3 linked regions of the Homo sapiens genome follow. The protein of the gene in region 3 purifies or fractionates together with the protein of the main gene of each other region. This does not show direct contact. Each region holds a gene or a part of one and is shown on either strand. Other genes may lie near its edges. The genes, in order: ANKRD22, PPP4R3A and UBE4A.

What was found.
Region 1: the proteins of UBE4A (region 3) and ANKRD22 purify together in Homo sapiens (co-immunoprecipitation; one large-scale study listed by IntAct). This does not show direct contact.
Region 2: the proteins of UBE4A (region 3) and PPP4R3A fractionate together in Homo sapiens (co-fractionation; one large-scale study listed by BioGRID). This does not show direct contact.

Annotation. Positions count from the first base shown.
Region 1 is NC_000010.11:88,827,724-88,831,457, forward strand, and holds part of ANKRD22 (ankyrin repeat domain-containing protein 22), read right to left. Parts: intron 944-3,734; coding exon 836-943; intron 1-835.
Region 2 is NC_000014.9:91,479,311-91,482,810, reverse strand, and holds part of PPP4R3A (serine/threonine-protein phosphatase 4 regulatory subunit 3A), read left to right. Parts: intron 1-617; coding exon 618-1,235; intron 1,236-3,500. UniProt on the Homo sapiens protein: Regulatory subunit of serine/threonine-protein phosphatase 4. May regulate the activity of PPP4C at centrosomal microtubule organizing centers.
Region 3 is NC_000011.10:118,369,414-118,373,147, reverse strand, and holds part of UBE4A (ubiquitin conjugation factor E4 A), read right to left. Parts: intron 3,726-3,734; coding exon 3,613-3,725; intron 1,635-3,612; coding exon 1,482-1,634; intron 642-1,481; coding exon 482-641; coding exon of another isoform or gene 461-481; intron 63-460; coding exon 1-62.

The sequences.
Region 1 (3,734 bases), on a different chromosome or scaffold from region 3:
ATAACATTTTTGACGGGCAGACTTGTTCTGCGGCTGATGTTAACAGGTGTAACCAATATTCACAGTTTATGAGCTACAACAAGGAGGGAGCTTGGTCATTTAATTAAAGTAAATTATGCATCTCTTGAGTCATGTCTGAGAAGTGGAACTGGGCACAAAGGAAACTAGATGGATAAAAGTGAGTAAGTCAGTGCAGATCTGTTACCCTATTGGGAAAAAAAACCAAAAACCATCTCAAGCTTCATCTTCTACTCCTCATATGACTGCATCTCTATACCAACTACATCTTTCTTTATTCAAGAAAATTGCTGTCTGCCAAGATTCATCCAAGCATGAAGAAATTCATCAAGGTGAAAATGGGCTTAAATTCTCAACAAGTATCTTCTGTGTGTGTCAGCTTCTGGATGCAAACTTTTAGGATCTGTTTTTCAACACACCACCAGAGGAGTACTTAAAAATCAGTAAGTCAGAAAGATAAATCCAAAAACACAAACTCCTCTTTTAAAAAAAGGAGAAAAAAATATTAGAAGGGGTGTTTTTTAATATTCAGAATTTTTTTGCTCCCTTCAGAAAAGTCTTAGTTAAGGTTAAATTATTTTTCTAAATCAACATTGCATGGATTATGTTACCATTGATTAACTATTTTTGCTAGCTTTCTTCTTGCTGTACTTCAATTATAGCATTGGATGTATGTTGAACATGTCAATTACAGAATACAAACCAAAGGCTTTTTTTGTTTTTATTTCTTTTCAACATCTCACTGGCCTGGCAAGAGTCAATGAGTCACACCATCGATCTCCACATTTGCCCTTTGCTCTACAAGTGTTGTACTCACCATGAGGAAATACCCAATAAGCAGAACAGGCATTAAGAGGATAATTAGTAGATAATCAATGAAGGTAAATTTTTTCTTCACAGCATAATGCAAGCAGGTTCTCTCTTTCTAAAAATTAAGAAAAGGATTCTTTACTAATAAAGCATTTCAATTCAAAATTTATTCAGATGGCCATCTCAAAAAGTTTAGTTTGTGCTTTTTGTTTTTCCGGTACCCATGGCATCTTTTCCTGTGGGATACATCTGATTACTGAATGCGGCTTTCCATGGAGCAGAACAGAGAACTCGGTCCAGTGTAAAGGAAAAGCTAGGGAAGGGCTCCTGGGAGTCAACAAAGGTGAAATGTACACAGCAGAGCTCATCAGAAGACAGATTCTTATACCCACTTAGTTTTTGGAAAAAAAGATACACTGAGATATAAACTTAGGACTGAATTTACTATGAAAATTGATAGTTATCCCTTAATCATCTACCATGTGTACGATTATCCATTTTGTGGTTTGTTCATAGGAAAACTCTTAACCACATGGCTGTTTTTCATGTTCCTTCATGTGCATAGTCTAGAAGAATGCATATAACTCAATTTTATTCTTCAAATATGTGAATACTTATCAGGTAATAGATGTCAGCTTCCAAGGGTTGTGGGAGATGTGAACTCTTAGGGCCTCATAATCAAAGATGGACAGAAATATGCACAAATAAATATAAGGCAAAACAGAAGGTGGTAATTGGAATACCAATCAAATCAGTAAGAGGAGAGGGAGCCCAAGAGAAAGAAAGGAGGTTAGTTTCCACTTATGCAAGGCACTGTACCTAAATAAGAACACTTTTTGTTTTTCTAATATGAAGGCATTTATATTTTCTGTAAAAAAATTTTAGAAACTAGAGAGGAACATAACGATAGAATTTTAAATTGCCCATTATTATATTAAATGGTCCAGAGTTAACTGTTGACATTTTGTTGTATTTTCTTCCAGTCTTCTTAAATGCATAAATGTGGAATTTTGAAATGTAGAATGATATTGCATATGCAATATCATATCTTGCTTTTTTCAGTTCAGAAACGTATATTTAGAATATGTACATTTTTCCATGCAATTCAATATTTTTAAACATATGATTGTAATGGCTGCATGGCTTAGTATTGAGTGGAACTACTCTGATGTATTTAGCTAAGCCCTGCCTTTTGAACATTTCATGGTTTTTGAGGGTTTTGTTTTTGTTTTTGTTTTTCTGTGAGACAGGATCTTGCTTTGCCACCTAGGCGGGAGTGCAGTGGCACAATCCTAGCTCACTGCAGCCTTGACTTCCTGGTCTCAAGCGATCCTTCAACTTCAGCCTCCAAAGTAGCTGGGACTACAAACATGTGCCACCACACCTGGATAATTTTTTACTTATTATTATTTTGTGTAGAGATGCGGGGGTCTTGCTATGTTGCCTAGGCAGGTCTTGAACTCCTGGTCTCAAACTATCCTTCCACCTTGGCCTCCCAAAATGCTGGGATTCCAGACATGAGCCACTGCACATGGCCCGTTTCAAGTTTTAAACTTTTCATTTTTATAAATAATATTGCCTGAACCTGCTCATTCATAAATTTTTGTCAACATTTCCAAATTTGTCCTTTGCCTACATTTCTAAAAATAGAATTCCTGGCATAAAAAGTATTAATGCTTTTCATATTGCGCTATCAAATTGTGTTCTAATAAGACAATAATAACTTAAACTTTCTGATCAACATTTGTTTTCTTTTTTAATCTTGGTCAGTTTGACAGACAAAAACAAGGATCTTTATGTTTTAATTTAATTTGCTATCAATAGAATCCATAGGCTTGTGCTTCTGAATCTCCAGCAGAGCTTTTTGTTTGTTTGTTTGTTTTTAAGGTGTTTGTTTGTTTAGTGTTTCTGGAAATAATTTATAAACAGATTTCAGACATGAGAAATCACAGGTTCAAATTATTAATGTACAAATATTAATATTTGGAGAAAATAAAAATATTAAATGCTAACATTAGAAACATTTGAAAGTGGAAAATGCAAACCAAAAACTTCTACTGATAAAATCTATTAATCTAATGTATCCACTAAAGTCTTTTTCATGGTTTTTATGATACCAGAAAATCCCAGCAGGCTGGCTGAGGCCCTCCTCTTCTGCAAAGCGGAGATAAAAGTGTCTCCTCAGCCTTGCCCATGGGCTAACGTCTCCTCCCTCAGTTTCCTAACGAGCGCACCTCTTAAAAGAGCGCAGGAACCCACAGACATCTGTCTTCTGGCACTACCACTCACTGCAACTCCACATATCTGGTTTCACAGCAGTGATCTACAGAGATCCTATTATAGTCCACGATGTTGCATATCTGTTCCATTCAGCACAGGCATGACTTGCTTTTAATCGCAACCAAACCAAAAATAGTAAGCATAAATAAAAAAGTCCAGTAATGATCAATTTTCTGATAATACATTGTTACTCCTGATGAGCTAGTCTCCAAATGACTTAGAAGGGGCAAGGGGGGATTTCCAGTGTTTTCTCGCCTTGAATGCATATAAGTGGGTACAGGACAGTCATAATGATTGCAAAAAAATGGCTTAATATTTATTCAGTGTAATTTAAATATTGCCTTCACTACGATGCAAATGCTAGATGTTCAGAAAGGGCTCCACAAGGATTTTCACAGCAATACACACATATTCTTCTCTTTCTTGGTCCTGAAGGCTCCAAAGTAGCTAATATTGCATCTTTAAATATATTCTTTACACCTTTTTGTGTGACTTCAAGTAACCTCTGGCTCATGAGCTTATTTGTCCTTGGTAAATTTCTCAATAGTACTCTTTCATTCTACAAGAACACTATAGGATCCTCTGGAGATCAGGACATTAATATAGCAGGTAAAAATCTAACTAAT
Region 2 (3,500 bases), on a different chromosome or scaffold from region 3:
TTATAGAAGATCAGTGACTCACTTTGGTCCAAAGCCAGTTTGTTCATGCTCTTTGGCCCTTGGTTTCTACAATCAATTGATGTTAAATATTTTCCTTTTTGCTTATAATTATATATATTTTCTGTGATCATAACATTATGATATTTGGTGTTTATTTGGTCTTCACCTCAGAGTTAAATATTGAAGAGTTTGGTGGTGGCAGTGTCCTTTAGCACAGTCCTAGGACTGTTTCTGAGACTTGCCTTGGTCTGCTGGAAAAGAGGGCCAGGGATATGAGATGTTAGTGGCTGTTTTAGCATCAGGCTTCTATGTTGTGGGTCTGCAGAGGGCTGTTTCGTAACAGTCTCACTTAGTTTAGCCTGTCCTAGAAAGTTGTTCTTGCCAGCAGACCTCATACTTTATAGGGAAGCTCATTCTGTTTTTGAACTTTGACTAACTTCCTTAAAATTGAAAGTATACATATTTGGAGAAATGTAATGTAGAAAAGTAGGCAGTTTTGTCTTGAAAATGACCATTATAGGTTTCTTACAACATTTCTAGTATTCATCTTAGAGTAGCATTTAGGTTTGCTGGTCACCTGTTATCTATTTTGTCAGCAATTAAATTTTTTTTCATAGGTTCAAGGAAAGGACCCTTCCGTGGACATCACTCAGGACCTTGTGGATGAATCTGAAGAGGAGCGTTTTGATGATATGTCATCGCCAGGCTTAGAATTGCCATCTTGTGAATTAAGTCGCCTTGAAGAAATTGCAGAACTTGTGGCATCATCTTTACCTTCACCTCTTCGTCGTGAAAAACTTGCACTGGCACTAGAAAATGAGGGTTATATTAAAAAGCTCCTGGAGCTTTTTCATGTGTGTGAAGATTTGGAAAATATTGAAGGACTGCACCACTTGTATGAAATTATCAAAGGCATCTTTCTCTTGAATCGAACTGCTCTTTTTGAAGTTATGTTCTCTGAAGAATGTATAATGGACGTCATTGGATGTTTAGAATATGATCCTGCTTTATCACAACCACGAAAACACAGGGAATTTCTAACAAAAACAGCCAAGTTTAAAGAAGTGATTCCCATATCAGATCCTGAGCTGAAACAAAAAATTCATCAGACATACAGAGTTCAGTATATACAAGATATGGTTCTACCAACTCCTTCGGTCTTTGAAGAAAACATGTTATCAACACTTCACTCTTTTATCTTTTTCAATAAGGTAGAGATTGTTGGCATGTTGCAGGTGAGTTAGATCATTCCTTTTTTCATATTTCAAGAGATGCAGCGAAAACAATTTGCTCCTTTTAAATACATACATTGAGTTTTAATTTTGTTAATGTATAAAGTTAAGTATTGTGAGTTATTTTAAGAGATTATAATATACAATAATAATACGAGACCAGAAGGTTACTCTATCTGGGGTAGGAGAGGTAAGTGTGACAAATGTAGTTTGAAGAAATGGTATGAGGGGATGATTTTTTGGATACAGGGTCTTGCTCTGTCACCCAGGCTGTAGGGCAATAATGCAGTCTCAGCGACTGCAACCTCCACCTTCGCTTCCCTGGCTGAAACAATCCTCCCACTGCAGCCTCCTGAGTAGCTGGGACCACAGGTGTGCACCACCACCCCCAGCCAATTTTTGTATTTTTTGTAGAGATGGAGTTTGTCATACTGCCCAGGCTGGCCTCAAACCTCTGAGCTCAAGCAATCTGCCTGCCCTGGCCTCCCAAAGTGCTGGGATTACAGGTGTGAGCCACTGGGCCCAGCCTGATTTTTTTTTTTTTAAGTTGAGGTCTTGCTCTGTTGCCCAGGCTGGAGTGCAGTGGCACAGCCATAGCTTATTGCAACCTTGAACTCCTGGGCTTGAGCCGTCCTCCCACCTCAGCCTTCCAATTAGCTAAGACTACAGATGCATGCTACCATAGCCACCTTTTAAAAATTTTTTTGTAAAGAATGGATCTCACTTTGTTGCCCAGGCTGGTCTCAAACTCCTGGCTTCAAGCAATTCTCCCACCTTAGCCTTGCAAAGTGTTGGGATTACAGTTGTGAGCCACCATACTCAACTATAGGAGGATAATATTAATGAAATGGTTGAATGCTGAACTTTGGGGTTATTACTCTATGAATTTTGCATAGAATAGAACAGATTGGAAGAGGAAAGAGTGAAGCACAAAGCCAAGAGAAATGTCACCAAACACAGAATATAAATTCTAATGAGAATTGTGGGCCAGGCGCTATGGCCTGTCTCTACCAAAAAAATAAAATTTAAAACGAATTTGTAAAATTCCCAGATAATGATACGGTAAAAGTCCAGTTTCAGGGTCTAGGGAATGTAGCAGAGGAGGCAAATTATAACTGCATGTATCCCTACCAAAAGCCACGTTTTGCTAAGGGGTGTGCCTGTGGGTGAGTTAAACCCATGTGAATTTGAGTTTCAGCTCCGTCTGTCACTTAATAACAGTAGCTATGTGAGTTGGGCAGCCTTAACTTCTTAAAGCTTCGGTTTCCCCATCTGAAGGATGGTGACATTAATGCCTACCCTGTAAAGTTGTCTGAAAATTAACTGAGGTCAGGCATGTAAAGAAAGTGTTTAATATGATGTAAGATTCATGGGAATTTTTTAAGTGTCTATTGATAATTGCTTATTAAAATGTAGATTTTTTTTTCTTATAGTATGCCCAATCTCTCTGATCTGGTGTTTTAGGGTATTTGCATCACAGTCCCCTAGGGTGCAGTATCATGAATTCTGCACAAAACCTGAGTCAAAGTCTCTGAGAGCTAGACAATAATTTGCGTTTGTAACACCCCCAAAATTAGAAAAGCTCTTACTGTGTCATCCCAGTGTGTGAATTGGTCTATTCTAACTGAAATAGAAGTTTACATAGGCTGGGCCTAGTGGCTTATACCTGTAATCCCACCACTTTGGGAAGCCAAGGCAGGAGGATCGATTGAACCCAGAAGTTAAAGACTAGCCTGGGGCTGGATGCGGTAGCTCACGCCTACAATCCCAGCACTTTGGGAGGCCAAGGCGGGTGGATCACCTGAGGTCAAGAGTTCAAGACCAGCCTGGCCAACATGGCGAAACCCCGTCTCTACTAAAAATACAACAATTAGCTAAACGTGATGGTGGACGCCTGTAATCCCAGACTCGGGAGGCTGAGACGAGAGAATCATTTGAATCTGGGAGGCGGAGGTTGCAGTGAGCTGAGATCACACCATTGCACTCTAGCCTGGGCAACAGGAGTGAAATTCTGTCTCAAAAAAGATTTTTTTTTTTTTTTAAATTAGCCAGGTATGGTGATGCATGCCTATAATCCCAGCCATGTGGGAGGCTGAGTTGGGAGAATCGCTTGAGCCCAGGAGTTTGAGTCTGCAGTGAGCAATGATCATGCCACCGCACTCAAGCCTGAGCAACAGAGTGAGACCCTATCTCAACAACAAAAAAATAAGTTTGTGTAGTACAAAGAAAGAATTGTTATTTGCACCCATACACACACACACACACACA
Region 3 (3,734 bases):
TTCCTCATCCAATATCAAGGCTTCAATGACCTCTTCCAGAAACTCAGTTACATCTTCAAAATCTAACAGAAGACAAATGAGAGAGAAAGGAGGGCACAAGAATTTTTATATGCCTTTACACACTAGCTCTTTACTTTCAATAATTCTTTTTTTTTTTTTTTTAGAGCTGGGGGTCTTGTTTTTTTGCTCAGCCTGGAGTGTAGTGGCTATTCACAGGTGTGATTATAGCACACTACAGCCTCAAACTCCTGGGCTCAAGGGATCCTTCTGCCTCAGCCTCCAGAGTAGATGGGACTACAGGGGTGTGCTACCATGCCCAGCTTTATTCTATTGGTACTCAACCTCAAAGATCAAGATGTGAGCCCTCCTCCTTAATTTATACCAGAACCATAATGGCTCTGAGACTTTCTAATGCAATTAGTGAAATTTTAAATCTGAAAATCAAAATGTAGAAGCTTACAGATCTTGTTCATGTACTCACGGGCTCCCTGGATGGCTTCTAACATCAAATCTACCAGTTGCTCATGGATGTTTTGGTCAACATAGATCTCTGGGGTGAGAAGAACTGTTCGGGTATTGGACACAGTGAGGTTTCTGCACTGCACTGCAAAGGGTAGCAGGTTCTCTGGAACTTTGGTAATCTGCAAACAGCATGAAGAAAAGAGGGAATAGTCTAACTCTGTAATCTGGAACGAAAGTAGACATAGTGAATACAATAGAAGAGACATACTGGTCTCCTGTGGATGCTTGAAAATTAATTAGAGATTCCTTCCTTGGCTTAAGGAATCATCTATCTGCCTATTTAAAATTCCAAACCTGGAAATATCCGGCTTAGCCTACTCTAATATTTACATCTCAGTGGAAATGAATTCATGAGCCCTTTTCTGATTTTTGAGACAGAGTCTCGCTCTGTCACCCAGGCTGGAGTGCAGTGGTGTGATCTCAGCTCACTGCAACCTCCACCTCCCAGGTTCAAGTGATTCTCCTGCCTCAGCCTCCTGAGTAGCTGGGATTATAAATGTGTGCCACCATGCCCGGCTAATTTTTGTATTTTCAGTAAAGGTTTTGCCATGTTGGCCAGGCTGGTCTCGAACTCCTGGCCTCATGTGATCCGCCTGCATCGGCCTCCCAAAGTGCTGGGATTACAGGAGTGAGCCACTGTGCCCAGCCTCATGAGATTTTTTTAAGGATGTGATTTCTAAAGAGGTTTTAGAGAGAATAGGAGGCATTGGTTAACTGGGGAGAAGGGTGGACCCCAAGATACGGAAAGGAGACTAAAGCTTTAGTGCATCTGATATCCAGTGTTCTAAACATACTATGACATATATAAATTGATATAAAAGCTTTAGTGTCCCTGATATTCACTTCTAGACATACTATGACATATATAAATTGAAATAAAGACTGATCCAACTCTGGCCCACATGCTGAAGTCATACCCAAGAGGACAATACAGTATTCAATGGGGATTATTCCTTTACCTCTTCCTTGGCTCTCTGGAAGCAGGAGTAAAGGTAACAAAAAATGTGCCTCTCTCCTGCATCTCGATCAGCAGAGAGATTTAGCGTTGTAGAAGAAGTCATGTTAATTAAGTGGTTGCCTGGATCTTGAAGTAATAAGCGAGCGAAGAGGGCCTATAAAGAAAACCAAACAAAAATACTAAACTATTGCAAAATTAATCTGAGAACATTAAGATGTAAAAGGTAATTCTGACACAGGTTATTAGCAAGAATCACAGATTTGAATGTAGAGTGAAGGAGAAAAAAAGGGCCCTGTATATTTTTACTTTAGAAAATTTTAGAAAATTATGGCATATATAAAGTTATCCTAAATCAAGCCTCAAGTGTCTAGTATAGCCCCAGCATAGAGTAGGCATTAAAAGACTATTTGTTGAATGGTGCTGAGATCAGTGATTAAACTTAGATGTGAAATCTACTATTCTGTGTGATTGCTGATCTCATTCAGACTTATATAAAGATACTCCAAATGTGAAGTTAAACTGCAAGCTGTCAACTGTCTTTCCTACCAAACTTTTATTCTTTTAATGTTACTCAGGCACCTGCAAGGTACAACGCACTGTTTTGATTTTTAAAGTGCTGTGGTTTATATGTTTGTCTCCAACAAAATTCATGTTGAAATTTGATCTCCATGTGGCACTGTTGGAGGTGGGGCTAGTGGGAGGTGTCTGGGTATGGAGGCGGATCCCTCCTGAATTGCTTGGTGCTTTTCTCAAGGTGCTGAATGAGTTCTTGCTCTCACAAGACTGGATTAATTCTCATAGGAATGGACAAATTCCCTCCAGAGCGGGTTCTTATTAAGCCAGGACACCTCTCAGGTTTTCTCCTCCTTGCATGCGTCCTCATGGTATGTGTCCTTTGGTGACTTCCTCCACCACATTGTGAGGCAGCACAAAAGCCCTCACCAGAGGCCAAGGACATACCCTGAATCTTCTCAGCCTGCAGAACTGTGAGCTAAATAAACTTTTCTTTATAAATTACTGCTTGGGTGTTCTTTTTTTTTTTTTTAGATGGGTCTTTCTTGCTCTGTCGCCCAGGCTGGAGTGCAGTCGTGTGACTATGGCTCACTGCAGCCTCTGCCTCCCAGGCTCAAGCAATCCTCCCACCTCAGCCTCCTGAGTAGCTAGGACTTCAGGTACATGCCATCACACCCAGTTAATTCTTTGTATTTTTTGTAGAAACATGGTCTTGTTATGTTGCCAGGGCTGGTAACTCCTGGCCTGGAGATCCTCCCAACTTGGCCTCCCAAAGTGCTGGGATTACAGATGTGAGCCACTGTGCCTAGTCACAGGTATTCTTTTATAGCAACACAAAACAGACTAAGATAGAAAGGATATAAAGAAGAAAAAGCGATGGGCCTTGCCCTTAAGAACTTAAGTCTAATAGGGGAGATAAGACAGGTACATAAGAAAGCCGCAACATGAGACAGAAAGTGACAATTCCCACAAGAGATTCAGAGGCTGATTATTCTAGGTACCCAGAGGAGGGAGTAACAACTTTTATTTGGCAAGGCTTTGTAATTTTTTCTTTTTTTTTTTTGAGACGGAGTCTTGCTCTGTTGTCCAGGCTGGAGTGCAGTGGTATGATCTCGGCTCATTGCAACCTCCGCCTCCTGGGTTTAAACCATTCTCCTGCCTCAGCCTCCCAAGTAGTTGGGACTACAGGCGCCCACCACCATGCCCAGCTAATTTTTTGTATTTTTAGTAGAGACGGCGTTTCACCATGTTAGCCAGATGGTCTTGATCTCCTGACCTCGTGATCCACCTGCCTCAGCCTCCCAAAGTGCTGGGATTACAGGCGTGAGTCAATGTGCCTGGCCAAGGCTTTGTAATTAAGAAGGCATTTTAACTGGTTCTTAGAGGATGGGTAGATTTGGGCATGTGGCCATGGTAGATGAAAAGATTCCAAAAGAGGAACACCACAATGTTAGAGATGCACATCCAGGTTACTTGGCCTTCTACTGGTAAAAAAAAAAAAAAAAAAAGAGAGAGGGATGGACATATGGACACAAGCATAAGTTGGAGAACAGTGAGCAGAATTCAGCCGCATAGCTAATTTTTGCTAAGGGCACACATTAGGAACGTAAGAATATTACCTGCTCAACATTGCTCATATCAAGCCAGTCTTGATCTTCTAGCTCTACTGCCATTTCTTCCAAATACACACAACGGCTAGGGATGCCATTCCCGCTTTTCAAGCTGGGATCACCTGGGAAAT